Linked DNA regions of Homo sapiens. The protein of the gene in region 2 purifies or fractionates together with the protein of the main gene of each other region. This does not show direct contact. Each region holds a gene or a part of one and is shown on either strand. Other genes may lie near its edges.

Region 1 (7,025 bases), on a different chromosome or scaffold from region 2:
CAGTAAAAGCATAGTATTTAGTAAAATATTTAACATCTGGAAGATAAATGCCAGAAGGAGTAATGATCAAAATGGTTTAAAGTAGCTCCCTATGCTATATGAAATGCCATCATACATTACAGTATTATTCATAATAGCAAAAATACTGGGAACAACTTAGATGTCCATCATCAGGGTAATGGTCAAATAGATTATGGCATGTCCATACAATGAAATACCAAGCAGGTGTATAAAAGAATGAGGGGGCCGGGTGTGGTGGTTCACGCCTATAATCCCAACTGTGGGAGGTCAAGGCGGGCGGATCACCTGAGATCAGAAGTTAGAAACCAGCCTGGTCAACATGGTGAAACCCTCTCTCTACTAAAAATACAAAGATTAGCCAAGCGTGGTAGCAGGCACATGTAATCCCAGCTACTCAGGAGGCTGAGACATGAGATGAACCCAGGTGGTAGAGGTTGCAGTGAGCTGAGATCAAGCCACTGCACTCCAGCCTGAGTGATGGAGCAAGACTCTGTCTCCCAAAAAAAAAAAAAAAAAAAAGAAGAAGCTTGTTCTGAACTGACACCATAAAATCTCCAAGATACATTGTTACAAAACTGGTGAAATCCAAAAAAAAGTCTGTACTTTAGCTTGAAAAAACAAAGATGTATTGGCCGGGCGCAGTGGCTCACGCCTGTAATACCAGCACTTTGGGAGGCTGAGGTGGGTGGATCACCTGAGTTCGGGAGTTTGAGACCAGCCTGACCAACATGGAGAAACCCCTTCTCCACTAAAAATACAAAATTAGCCAGGCATGGTGGCACATGCCTGTAATCCCAGCTACTAGGGAGGCTGAGGCAGAAGAATTGCTTGAACTCGGGAAGCAGAGGTTGCAGTGAGCTGAGATGGCACCATTGCACTCCAGCCTGGGCAACAAGAGCAAAACTCCGTCTAAAAAAAAAAAATGTATTATGGGCTGGACACGGTGGCTCACACCTGTAATCCCAGTGCTTTGGGCAGCCGAGGCGGACAGATCATGAAATCAGGAGTTCGAGACCAGCCTGACCAACATGGTGAAACCCCGTAATTATTAAAAATACAAAAATTAGCTGGGCGTGGTGGCACGCACCTGTAATCCCAGCTACTCAGGAGGCTGAGGCAGGAGAATCGCCTGAACTTGGGAGCCACAGGTTGCAGTGAGCCAAGATTGTGCCACTGCACTCCAGCCTAGTGACAGAGCAAGACTCTGTCTAAAAAAAAAAAGATGTACCATTAGGTGAAAAATGAAAGATTGAAACAGTGAGTACAGTATGCTATCATCTGGATAAAAAAGAAAGCTGGAGGAGAAGTATATATTTGTTTGTAAACACATAGGATAATTGTAGAAAAACCCAAGAAATTGCCTCCCAATAACCAGAGAAAATCAGAAAAAAAAAAAAAAAAAAAAAAAAAAACCAAGAAAGAAATTACCTCCCCAGAAGGGAACTGCATAGCTGGAGGTCAGAGGTGAGAGGCAGACTTTTGTCTGTGCCTTTTTTTTCCCTTTTTTTTTGAGACAAGAGTCTTGCTCTGTTGCCCAGACTGGAGTGCAATGGCACGGTCTCAGCTCACCGCAACCTCCACCTTCCCGGTTAAAGTGATTCACCTGCCTCAGCCTCCTGATTAGCTGGGATTACAGGCACCCGCCACCACGCATGGCTAATTTTTGTATTTTTAGTACAGACGGGGTTTCACCATGTTGGACAGGCTGGTCTCAAATTCCTGGCCTCATGATCTGCCCGCCTCGGCCTCCCAAAGTGCTGCAATTACAGGCGTGTGCCACTGCACCTGGCTGTCTGTGCACTTTTTTGTAGCTTTTGAATTTTGAATCACATGAATATTACTTTTTCAAAATAAAATTTAAATTTAAAAACAATTTGGTGGAGCACGGTGGCTCATGACTACAATCCCAGCATTCTGGGAGGCCAAGGAAGGAGAATCACTTGAGACCAGAAGTTTGGGACCAGCCTGAGAAACACAGTGAGACCCCGTGTCTACAAAAAAAAAAATTAAAACTTAGCTGGGCATGGTGGCATGCACTTATAGTCCCAGCTACTCTGGAGGCTAAGGCAGGAGGATCACTTGAGCCTAGGAGGTCGAGGCTGCAGTGAGCTATGATCGTGCCACTCACTCCACTCCAGGCTGGGCAACAGACTGAGACCTTGACTCAAAAAAACAAAAAACTTAAAAATGCGTATAACCTGTGACTAAACAAGCCGAATTACAGAAATTTTGTGCCAAAATATGAGCATGAGCATGCAAAGTTATTCACCAAGTAATCAGGGCTTCTGAATAGAATTGGCACTTGACAGTTCTCCCACACAGAAAAACTGTTTATGCTGAGAATGGAGGTACTATAAAAATTAAGGCAGTGGTTTCCAAATCGATTATGAAGGACACCAGATTTTAAATAATAAGCTGGGTGCAGTGGGTCATGCCTGTAATCCCAGCACTTTGGGAGACTGAGGCGGGAGGGTTGCTTGAGGTCAGGAATTCAAGCCTGAGTAACATAGTGAAACCTCTATCTCTACAAAAACTGTTTTAAAAATTAGCCAGGCATTGGGCCGGGCACGGGATTACGCCTGTAATTCCGGCACTTTGGGAGGCCAAGGGTGGGTGGATCACCTGAGGTCAGGAGTTCGAGACCAGCCTGGCCAACATAGTGAAACCCTGTCTCTACTAAAAATACAAAAATTAGGCCGGGTGTGGTGGCTCACACCTGTATTCCCAGCACCTTGGGAGGCCGAGGCGGGCAGATCATGAGGTCAGGAGATCAAAACCATCCTGGCTAACACAGTGAAACCCCGTCTCTACAAAAATACAAAAAAAAAAAAATTAGCCGGGCGTGGTGGCAAGCGCCTGTAGTCCCAGCTGCTTGGGACGCTGAGGCAGGAGAATGTCGTGAACCCTGGAGGCGGAGCTTGCAGTGAGCCAAGATCACGCCACTGTACTCCAGGCTGGGTGACAGAGCGAGACTCCGTCTCAAAAAATAAAATAAAATACAAAAATTAGCCAGGCGTGGTGGCAGGCACCTGTAATCCCAGCTACTTGGGAGGCTGAGGCAGGAGAATCGCTTGAACCCGGGAGGCGGAGGTTGCAGTGAGCCGAGATCTCACCATTGCACTCCAGCCTGGGGGACAAGAGCGAGACTTTGTCTCAAAAAAAAAAAAAAAAAAAATTAGCCAGGCATGGCCGGGCACAGTGGGCCTATAATCCCAGCTACTCAGGAGGATGAGAGAGGAGAATCCCTTCAACCTGGGAGGCAGAGGTTGCAGCGAGCCGAGATCACACCACTGCACTCCAGCCTGGGCGTCAGAGTAAGACTTTGTCTCAAAAAAAAAAATTAGGCGTGTTGGTGCACACCTGTAGTGCTAGTTACTGGTGAGGCTGGGGTAGGAGGGTTGCTTGAGCCCAGGAGATTGAAGCTGTGGCAAGGTAGGATAGCACCACTGCACTCCAGCCTGAGCAACAGAGTGAGACCTTGTCCCTATAAAACAAATGAATAAAATAATGTATTAAACTGTATTTATTAAGAATTATTTCATTTCTCCATTTAAAAAAATTCAAGAATCTTATACTATCTGAGTCTAAACAGTTCCCAAATTCAAACAGCAAGTGCTCAAATACCATGTCTGAACAGTGAAGAATGCCACATTATCTAAATCTATTTAGATTCTGGACTTGGAAAGCAGGAGGTTGGATAATGAGGGACACCTGTACACATGTAAGTGTTGATCAGAGCTTCTGATCAATGAGTTCATTGGTTTTTTGTTTTTAAAATTTTTGTGAGTACACAGGAGGTATATATATTATGGAGTTCATGAGATTTTTTTTGTTTTTGAGAGGGAGTCTCGCCTGTCGCCCAGGCAGTGGTGTGATCTCGGCTCACTGCAACCTCTGGCTCCTGGGTTCAAACGATTCTCCTGCCTCAGTCTCCTGAGTAGCTGGGATTAAAGGCACATGCCACCACACCCGGCTAATTTTTTTATTTTTAGTAGAGACGGGGGTTCACCATGTTGATCAGGCTGGTCTTGAACTCCTGACCTCGTGATCCGCCCGCCTTGGCTTCCCAAAGTGCTGGGATTACAGGTGTAAGCCACCGTGCCCAGCCCATGAGATGTTTTAATACAGGCATATAATGTGAAATAGGCACATGATGAAGAATGGGGTATCCAGCCTGAGTTCATTGGTTTTTATCAAAAAGACTTATCTACAATAAAAGCCAATAAAAGCAACATTTTATTAAAAGACAGAACGCTTACTGGGCTTTTTGAAATAATAACTCACAAAAAACACTCTACAACCTCTGGGAACCCTTAGAAGACGCCATCTTCCATAATTCCAGAAGCTATTACACCTACTTCCACAAGGTATACACCCAGATAACACACCCTGCAGACATAAAAAGGGTACCAGCACAGACATCAACCCAAAAAAGGCCCTCACTTGAGAAAGAGGAGTTATATTTTATATTTATATTTTATGGTTACCTTCACAAAACAGAGGACAACAGTCTATTCCCAAGGGTTAAGGGAAAGAGGCATAACTCAAGCTTGAACACATTCCAATAGGACCATAGGGAACAAACATGTATCCTTGAGAGACTAACAGGATAACAGACTATGAAGTCTTCTAAGAATAAACACAAAGATAGCTGGGCTTGGTGGCTCACATCTATAATCCCAGCACTTTGGGAGGCCGAGACGGGCGGATCACGAGGTCAGGAGATCAAGACCATCCTGGCTAACATGGTGAAACCCCGTCTCTACTAAAAATACAAAAAAATTAGCCGGGCGTAGTGGCAGGCGCCTGTAGTCCCAGCTACTCGGCAGGCTGAGGCAGAAGAATGGCGTGAACCAGGGAGGTGGAGCTTGCAGTGAACCGAGATGGCGCCACTGCACTCCAGCCTGGGCGACTGAGCGAGACTCCGTCTCAAGAAAAAAAAAAAGAACACAAAGAGATGTCAAATCCCATGCAATCTTCCCCTGAGCTATAGCAAGACACTGGGAATGAGGGACTCAAATAGTTGCTCTGCACATCATAGTGGGGAAAACAAGATAGCTGGGCCTATCTAGATAAATTTGATTTGACAAAACCCATTTTTCCTCAACCAAATTAAGATCTACATGCTTGCTAAGGATTTGTTAAAGAGAGCAAGAAAGAATGGCCTGATGTATAGTAACTGCTAAGGTCTACAAACAAGCAAGTGTTTCTGGCTATTGCTAAATGACATTTGCATTCTACAAGGGACTCTGAATGTACAACTTCCTCTGAGAGCAACAGTAGTCCCAAATGACTGTGACAAACATCTATCAAAGGTCTTGCTGGAAGGTACAGAGAGAAGGAACTCTAGAAGGGGCTGGTACCTTTGGGACCGTAGATTTTGTGACCACTAATGCTCATGAGATCAATTTTCATGTCATTGACATCAAGTGGGATTTTTCCAACAGCCTGGGCTGCATCAGTATGGAAATATACCTTTCTGGAACTGCAAATCCGCCCTGAGGAAACAGAGGGGAAGACCCACAGCACAATGTTGGAAAGTCATCTGTCAGAGTCCCACAGTGCACTGTGAATTATCTCCAATAGTAAATGACCTGTAAATATTAAACTCCTCCCCTCCCTCCTTCTACCCCTTCTCCTTCCTCTTTTCCTTCCCTCCTCCCCCTTCCCCCTTCCTCCCTCTCTGTGTCTCAGTAGCTTCCCTTCTTTAGAATAAAAAAGATGAAGGGCAAAGCACCAGATCGAAACACTCGTGATATTCTTATGCATACAATTCTCACCACCTCATTAACACCAGCCTTTCAAAATGTCAGATTACTTTCTAGATCCCTTTTGATTAAAAAACAAACAAAACAAAATAAAAAAAAAAAAACAAGATTAACAGATCTTTGTGCTAATGTGCCTAAAGAAATTACAGGGCGATCTCTATGTGGGGAGAATAGAGATGTTCTAAAAGGAAAAAGAGTAGCAGGCTTTTTTGTTTTGTGGTTGGTTTTGGCAGCAACTGCAATAAAATTAAAAACCATAAAAGGTGCTAGACCTGGCCGGGAGCAGTGGCTCACGCCTGTAATCCCAGCACTTTGGGAGGCCAAGGCAGACGGATCACCTGAGGTTAGGAGTTCAAGACCAGCCTGGCCAACATGGCAAAACCTCATCTCTACTAAAAATACAAAAATTAGCCAGGCATAGTGGTACACACCTGTAGTCCCAGCTACTCAAGAGGCTGAGGCGGTAGGATCATTTGAACCCAGAGTGAGGAGGTTGCAGGGAGCTGAGATCACACCACTGCACTCCAGCCTAGGTGACAGAGTGATACTCTGTCTCAATGAAAAAAAAAATGGTAATAGACCTGGATTCAAATACTGCCTATGACACTTCCAATGTCCTTGAACAAAGTACTTAGGCTTTCCCTTGATTTCCTAACTACACTCCATAGAGTATTACAGCTCTCAGTATACTACCTCATACAGAGCCCCATGGTGGGCAGGGATCAGGGATAAGCCATGATACTCACCTATTTCTGCAATAGGCTGCTTCACTCCAATCTCATTGTTCACAGTCATGACTGACACCAGGCTAGTATCTGGCTGGATAGCAGCCTCTAGTTCCTAGGGATATGCAGGAGTAAGGTGACTAGATAGTACAAACAAAGTCCTCCTAAATCAGAATATAGGCAAACTTAGTCATGAAAAGGAGTCTTATACTACATACCTATCTGAATAGTTAACTAAAAACAGTGACAACACAAAATGTTGGTGAGGATGCACAGACTCTGAATGGTTCATACATTGTTAGTGGGAATGTAAATATCACAGCCACTTTGGAAAACAGTTTGACAGTTTCTGTTTCTCATCAAACTAAACATGAAATTACCATAGAACCCAGTAACTGTACACTTGGGCATTTATCCCAGAGAAATGAAAATTAAATTCACAAAACATCTTACACAAATGTTCACAATAACTTTATTCGTAATACCAAAAACCTAGAAACTACCCAGATTC
Region 2 (7,526 bases):
CTAGAATCTAGGCTAGGTGACCAGGTAGTTGTCCCATGCTGTCACCGTAAGCATGACAGTAACAGGTTTAGGGGAGTGAGAAGGGAAGGAGATGATGACTTTGGTTTTTTGACTGTGTTGATGTTGATGTACATCATATCTAAGAGGGCATGTTCACTAGTCAATTGGATGCAAGGTCTGAGACTCTAGAAAGGTCAGTGGATATAAGGTTAGAGATTTATTAGACTGGAGGTAGGTTGGTTTGGGTTGCCAAGAAGAGTGTGTAGACTGAGAAGAGAGAAGAGAAGAGAGCAGAACCCTGGAAAATTCTAAGCCATGGCTAGAGGATCAGAAGCCCACAAAGACACACTGGACAAGTGGGCATAGAGACAGGAAGGAGAAAAGCAGTATCATGACCATGAAGAGAAGGCAGTCTCTGAAAGGGAAAGATGTCAATGGTGTCACACACCACAAAGAAGTCAAGGTAAGAAAGGAAACTCATTTTCTGGACTTACATGAAGAGAATAACCTCACCATAAATGCCCTAACAAATTAGTAGCTTCTTAAGTTTTCTGGGATGTCTTTATTGCTAAAATAACCTCAGATAGCCATACTTCTTTTATTTATATTGTGCTTTTATGTTTATTAAAGATAGTTTTATAAGTGAATCTATAATTATTTTAAAATAAAAAGTTATTTAAAATAGTCCCATAATATAATCCTTTAAAAGAGATTTGGAAATATTTATGTTTTTCCAGTAAACCTCACATTACCTAATAATAGGACTCACAGACTTGAATATCTACAGGGGCCAGGCAAGGAAAAAGAAGAGTTAAGCAATTTGAATCGGGGGCAGAGTAGGGGCGGCAAACTACTCAAAACCCAAGTCCTTTCTAAAAAGAGCAGCCAATAGCCAATTCTACTATACAGCCATAAGGCCAATCTTGCCAGGTCATCTGGTTTTTTGAGAAAAGCCAGAAATATGAATTTTTACATAAAATTTCCCAATTTTAAAATGTACCCAGTGAATTTAATTTTTTTCAAAATATTTTGTAAATGTAACGAAACATATCAATAGGTCCGAGACGGCTCAGGAACCATTCAGTTTTTTTGCCTTCGCTCTAGAGTATGTATAATATGGCATTTTAATCTTATACATTGAGAAGAAATTAAGTTGTAAATAAGAAAGGAGGCTGAGGAGGGAGGATCACTCATAAGCAGTAATAGAGCTGGATGCAGAATCTGGTTCTTTTAGTTACCAAACTGTTATGTCCTTCCTCTGCGATTACACAAGCTTCTTTACCTAACAAATGAAATATATAGACAGGTTAGTCAGACATGCAATAATCACAGCATGCTGTAATAAATTTAGGACAGACAGCATAAGCTTCCCATTTAATTAATCCAGATGCTGTCTCTCTTGAAACATTTATAAGTGGGAGCCCCAGATGAGTCATCAAATCAATTGTCTTTGCCTCACAAAGTCTGTTTTAAAAGTATAGGACACAATTATAGCATGGTTTGGAGCAAAATTATAACTTAGCTAAACAAATATCTTTATATCGAGTAATAACATGTAGATATTTTAAATTTCTGGAGAAAAGTTTAATTATTGCAGAGCTCATAGAAAGCCAGGCTCCAATTATTAACACTTTAAGGACTGGGCGCTGTGGCTCACGCCTGTAATCCCAGCACTTTGGGAGGCTGAGGCGGGCCGATCACCTGAGGCCAGGAGTTCAAGACCAGTCTGGCCAACATGGTGAAACTGCATCTCTATTAAAAATATAAAAATTAGTCAGGCGTGGTGGTGGTGCCTTTAGTACCAGCTACTTGGGAGGCTGAGGCAGGAGAATCGCTGGAACCCGATGATGGAGGCTGCAGTGAGCCAAGATTGTGCCACTGTACTCCGGCCTGGGCAACACAGTGAGACTGTCTCAAAACAAAAACAAAAACAAAAAACAAAACAACAAAACAAACAAAAACACAACTTTAGTACGACTATACCCATCCATTCACTCAACATATATGATGAACCTACAATTTCCTGTTCACTAGGGATATATTTTCCAGCTGAGGGCATATACATTTAAACTAATTATTTTCAGTAAAACATGGAGTGAGCGCTACAGGAGTCCAGAAGGAAGGGGCTAGCATAGCCACTTACCTTCTTTGCCTTTGCTAACAGATCTCTAAAGTGAAGTACGCTGATTTTGCAAAAACCAAAGTCTCAGAGCTAGGGGACTTGGTGGGATACAGACTCACGTATTCTGACTGCGAGTTCACAGCTGAGATACCGTGAACAAAAAGGAACCACTCTTTTGTATTCCTCTCTTTCCCAAGGAGTCAGTGTACTCCTTTGCAAAGCAATTTTCACCTACAGAGTCCTAACAAATATTAGCTATGTCCTCTGATTTAAGCTACTCAACTCAATGCCATGTTTTGTTTTCCTTTGGGGAGTCACCAACTAGCTTGGACTTGAAAGACGTCTTCTGTGCAAGGGGAGGCAAATCTTGCTGGTTGGAAGCAGCAGAATCAATCTGGCGCCAGTATCATCTGAATCTAGCATTCTTTGCACAAACTCTAATCCAAATACAAACCCACCAGCTTTTACTGCTGAAGTTTAATATTCACAGCAAAACCACAACGTGGCCTCACGTTACCACCAGGCCCGGCTTGAGCTTTTTACTCGAGCTGGGCTTGGGCGATCTAAAACGAGGGACAGGGCCTGCATTTCCTGGGCGGAATGTTATTTATAGCCAGGGCCAGGAGAAGCCAAAGCCGACAGCTGCTGCGCCGCAGCGCGGGGCCGCCGCCATGCAAGCAGTTGTCACACCGCTCACCTTCACAGTCGGCCCCTGGCCGCCCCCCGGCCTCCTGGCCCTGCGTCAGCACCGGGTGAGAGACCAAAAGCCCGGCGCAAAAGGCCACCACAGCAACTGGGCTCGCGCACCACATGCTGGGCCAGCAGCTTCAATCGCCTCCGCCACCCGCGCCCACCGCCCACCAAGCTGCCAAAGCGAGCTGAGCAGAATTCGAGGTTGGAAAGAATCTGCCAGTAGTTGCCAGGACAAATGACGCAACTGAACACAGAGTTTCCATTGGCTCTCAAGGAAGGGATAGGAAGGGGGCGGAGTGTAGGAGCCTTTTCCCGTCCCTCCCCGGTTGCGCGTGCGCACTGTGCAGTTTCCGCGGAGCGCAGAGACGCGCTGAAGCTACTCGCGGACTGCGCGTGAAGAAAGGCGGAACCTTCACGCTGATTGGCGGCGACGCGGGAGGCTGTAGCGGCCGACCGGACGCAGGGGGCTGGCGGGAACGTGAAGCTCCGCGGTGCCTGATGGGGCCGTTGGGCGGCCGGTAGCTGTTGCTGTTGGGGGACCCCCTCATTCCTGCCGCTGCCGTCCCTGCTGCCTCATGGCGGCCATCGGAGTTCACCTGGGCTGCACCTCAGCCTGTGTGGCCGTCTATAAGGTGAGGGGCTGCGGAGCTGGGCTAGGGCTTCATGACGGCCACCCGGTTTTCTGGCGCTGGGTCATCCACAGGCTTGAGAGCGGCGTGTCGCCGGCCTAGGGATGTCGTGGAGTGGCGTTGCCGCGAGGACACTCCGGAGCGAAGGGCCGGGCAGGCCCGGCCTCGCGCCTGGCGATTCCTCCGGAAAGTCGTCTACTCCGCGGCGGAGGCTCGCGGCGATGTAGACGCGCGGGGTCCCAGGGCGTCATGGCGGCGGGATGCCCGGAGGGGTCCCAGGGACGACGTAGCTGCAGGGTGCCCGGGGGGGTCCCGGAGACAGCGGGGCCGCTGGGTGTCCCGGGGGGTCCCGGGGACGGCGGGGCTGCGAGCATTTTGGGGGAGGTCACGGGGACGTCCTGGCCTCTGGATGCCGGAAGGGGTCTCGCTGACGTCAGGGCCTCAGGATTCCCGCGGGTGGGAGGTCCTGGGAAAGTTGTGGCCGCGAGGTACTTGGAGGCGGTGGTCTCTGGGACAGCAGGGCCGCAGAACGCGCTGAGCTGGGCCCGAACGTCTAGGTCCCGGAGGGGCGGGGAGGCTGCAGTCGAGCTGGGGCTGATGGTCCCGCAAAGCTGCCTGGCTGTGAAGCCAGTTGATGGTGCGTGGTCTACAGAGGTGGCCTTTCTGGAAGTGAGAGCCTGACAGGACTTGTGGCCTTTCTCTCATCAGTGGGGAGGCAGAAGAAACGATAATCATGAACTCCGTTGCCACTAGTCCCGCGTTTAAATGTCAAATGACTTGTTAGGAAAAGCCAAAGGGAATAATACTACTTCATTTGTAGAAATGGGAAGAAAGGGGCCCAGCGCGGTGGCTTACGCCTGTAATCCCAGCACTTTGGGAAGCCGAGGCAGGCGGATCACGTGAGGTTAGGAGTTCTAGACCAGCCTGGCTAACATGGTGAAACCCCGCCTCTACTAAAAATACTAAAAATTAGCCGGGAACGCCTGTAATCCCAGCTGCTCAGGAGGCTGAGGCATGAGAATGGCTTGAACCCGGGAGGCGGAAGTTGCAGTGAGCCGAGATCTGGCACTGCAGTCTGCACTCCAGCCTGGGCCACGGAGCAAGACTCCGTGTCCAAAAAAAAAAAAAAAAGAAATGGTAATGGTAAGAAGGAAGAGAGGTAGGAAAGGTAACGTAATAATAGCCTTCGTTTTGTGTGTAGAAAGGTTGTTATTACTTTTGATTCAATTGTTGACTTTGCAGAGCAGACTGAAAACATGAGGCAGTTCTTCATGGAATTATAGGCTTTCTATGAAAACGAGGAAATTAAATGGTAATTAAATTTGCAAGTTTAAAATATTGAGATAGCAGTTTTTCTTTCCACACAGATGGCAAAGTAACACTGGTGCACAAATGCACACGTCTGAATACGTCTAATGAGACTATGTATTTCGTGTTTTTTTCTCTAGGATGGCCGGGCTGGTGTGGTTGCAAATGATGCCGGTGACCGAGTTACTCCAGCTGTTGTTGCTTACTCAGAAAATGAAGAGGTACTAGTCCCCCCATTTTTGTACTTCTGAAATAATTTAAAATTACATACATTGTAATATATATATATATATATTATTTTTTTTTTCAGATTGTTGGATTGGCAGCAAAACAAAGTAGAATAAGAAATATTTCAAATACAGTAATGAAAGTAAAGCAGATCCTGGGCAGAAGGTATGGAATCAAATGATACTTTTAAATATGGTAATAGGAACATGTTCATAAATTCTAAGCATAATGTGAAAAGAAATTAGAAACAGCATAGTTTGTTTCTTCATTGCTTTTTATGACTGAGTCATTACAGAGAGTACCCCCAGTAGGCAGTGTCTTTTGATTCTTAGTGTTGGATCTTCTCTGATATGGGATTCACTCAGATGTTAGTTTCTTGCTGACAGGTCAATTTGGTAATTTGCGTCAGAGGTGGTAATTTGGATTGTTCACATTTTTAGATTTTTTTTAACTGAGAGGATTTCAAAGATTTTGTGGGAATTTGAAGACTTATTGACAATGTGGTTGAATTTTGCTGAATCTATTACAATTTTTCGTAATTTATGTAGACACTATTGATTTTCTTCCTCAGGATCTTTTGTGACACTTTCTGGGAACGAACTTTTCCACTTGACTTACAAATTTAATCATTAGAGTAACAGCTAAATTAACGTCTTATGTAAGAATCAGATTAATCATCTGTTGTAAGTTTAATTAGAAGATTAAAACAGGCTTGCTTCCCCAGACTTCTGTCTCCTCAAATTATAGATTGCTATAATAATTAGGGGTTTTCATTTTCACTACTGTAGTAATACTTGATAGAGTGTTTTTAAATTTTCAAAGTGCTTTCACATCTATTATTTTATTTAATTCTCTCAACATCCTTGTAAAATTGGCAACGCAAATACTATCATTCCCCATTTATAGATGAGAAAATCAAGGTACAAAGAAATTGTGGCATTATCCTAGGGGGTAAACTGGGTAAGACTGCAGATCAGGTCTCCTCACCCTCGGCCCCAGGTTCTTTTCTTTCAACTTTGTTTAGTGAGAATTTAAGTAAAAATGTCCTGGTGTTGATTTAGAATTGGATATTATAGATTAAATTTATGCAGGTATCTCTTACCTGTTTATCTTATTTTCTGTCTCTTACCTGTGTTCAATTAAATTGAACTTGATATTAATCTTTTTCCTCAGGATACTTATGCACTAAGCCAAAAACTATAGTTGTTTGGAGAGAATTCAATATTCAGTGACAATAAATACATCCCCATATCCTTTTACCTATTGATAAAACTTAGTACCGAGCATATTAAATATAAGTTGGTGTCAAATATTTTCAGATCATAAAGTCTAGAAAAAAGAATCGTAGATGGGTCTTCAAGCCCAAATCACTGAGCAGCCAACAATATGATTTTTTTAATTAAACTTTTTATTTAGAGAGAATTGCAGTTTCCCATGCTGCTGTGTAAGAAATAATACAGAGACATCAAACACATTGCTGGATTCACCACCTCTCCCCGTGGTTATATCTTGCAAAATTATAGTACAGTGTCACAACCAAGATGCTCACATCGATATAGTCCAGATACAGAACATTTCCATAGATCTCTCCCCTGGTAGCCAACAATATGTTACTGTTTGTTTTATGCTGCTGTTTGAGGGCACATGGTTAGAGTAATTATGTGGCTTTCTTCTGCCATATTGTGCAAAAAAAAAATTTGTATTAGCAGAGCAACTTAAACTCACTTTTCTGGCCCACACTGACAGTCAGATGGGTAACACAGAGCCACAGCGTGCTGTGATTAGTAAAGACTGAGCATCTTTCAGATTGCTATACCGTGGTCATGCTTGGACTCCTTTAGCGTTAGCTGCCTCATGGTCCAGGTGATTTTCCCTCCCAGCCCATCTACTCACCAGACAAGGGTGATTTTTACAGATCCATTGTTGTACCAACTCTCAGCCATGAAAGCATTTGGCCTTTTTGTTACCAAGCCATTAGGTTCTTGGTGCCGTGTCTACCCTGGGTGAACTCCCAAAGTTGGGCTATCTCAGTCTTGGCCTCATGCCTGTTTATGACCTACTCACAGGTAGCACCACTTAACTTGCTGCCAAAATTATCCTTACACCCTTCCTGTAACTCTCATTCCCCTGTGGCCTTCCAGCCAGAAATGCGGTCCTTGGACCTGGCTTCTCAGCAATTATCCCTGAGAGGGAAGATCCTGGAGATATCCTGAGAGCACACAGAGCTTCCCCACACCTTCAGACTTGCACCTTGCTGTCCAGAAGCTGCCTAGCCCTCCTTTCCAACCCACAATGGCCAGTGCCAATAGCAGTGCGGGCATCCGGTGGTCCAGACAGGAGACACGAACTCTTCTCTCCATACTAGGCGAGGCAGAGTATATTCAGCGCCTCCAGACTGTGCATCACAATGCAGATGTCTATCAGGCTGTGTCTAAGCGAATGCAGCAGGAGGGCTTCCGCCGCACCGAACGTCAGTGCCGCTCCAAGTTTAAAGTTCTGAAGGCATTATATTTAAAGGCCTATGTTGCCCATGCCACAAGTATGGG

What was found.
Region 1: the proteins of CDNF (region 2) and NFS1 purify together in Homo sapiens (affinity purification with mass spectrometry; 3 studies listed by BioGRID and IntAct, with this or other methods). This does not show direct contact.

The regions. Positions count from the first base shown.
Region 1 is NC_000020.11:35,675,353-35,682,377, forward strand, and holds part of NFS1 (cysteine desulfurase isoform a precursor), read right to left. Parts: intron 6,630-7,025; coding exon 6,536-6,629; intron 5,520-6,535; coding exon 5,385-5,519; intron 1-5,384.
Region 2 is NC_000010.11:14,835,013-14,842,538, forward strand, and holds the start of CDNF (cerebral dopamine neurotrophic factor precursor), read right to left. Parts: upstream 3,026-7,526; 5' UTR 2,935-3,025; coding exon 2,820-2,934; intron 1-2,819. Other genes in the region: HSPA14 (heat shock 70 kDa protein 14), read left to right, coding at 3,391-3,447, 4,893-4,973, 5,063-5,145; MSANTD7 (zinc finger and SCAN domain containing 29), read left to right, coding at 7,273-7,526. UniProt on the Homo sapiens protein: Trophic factor for dopamine neurons. Prevents the 6-hydroxydopamine (6-OHDA)-induced degeneration of dopaminergic neurons.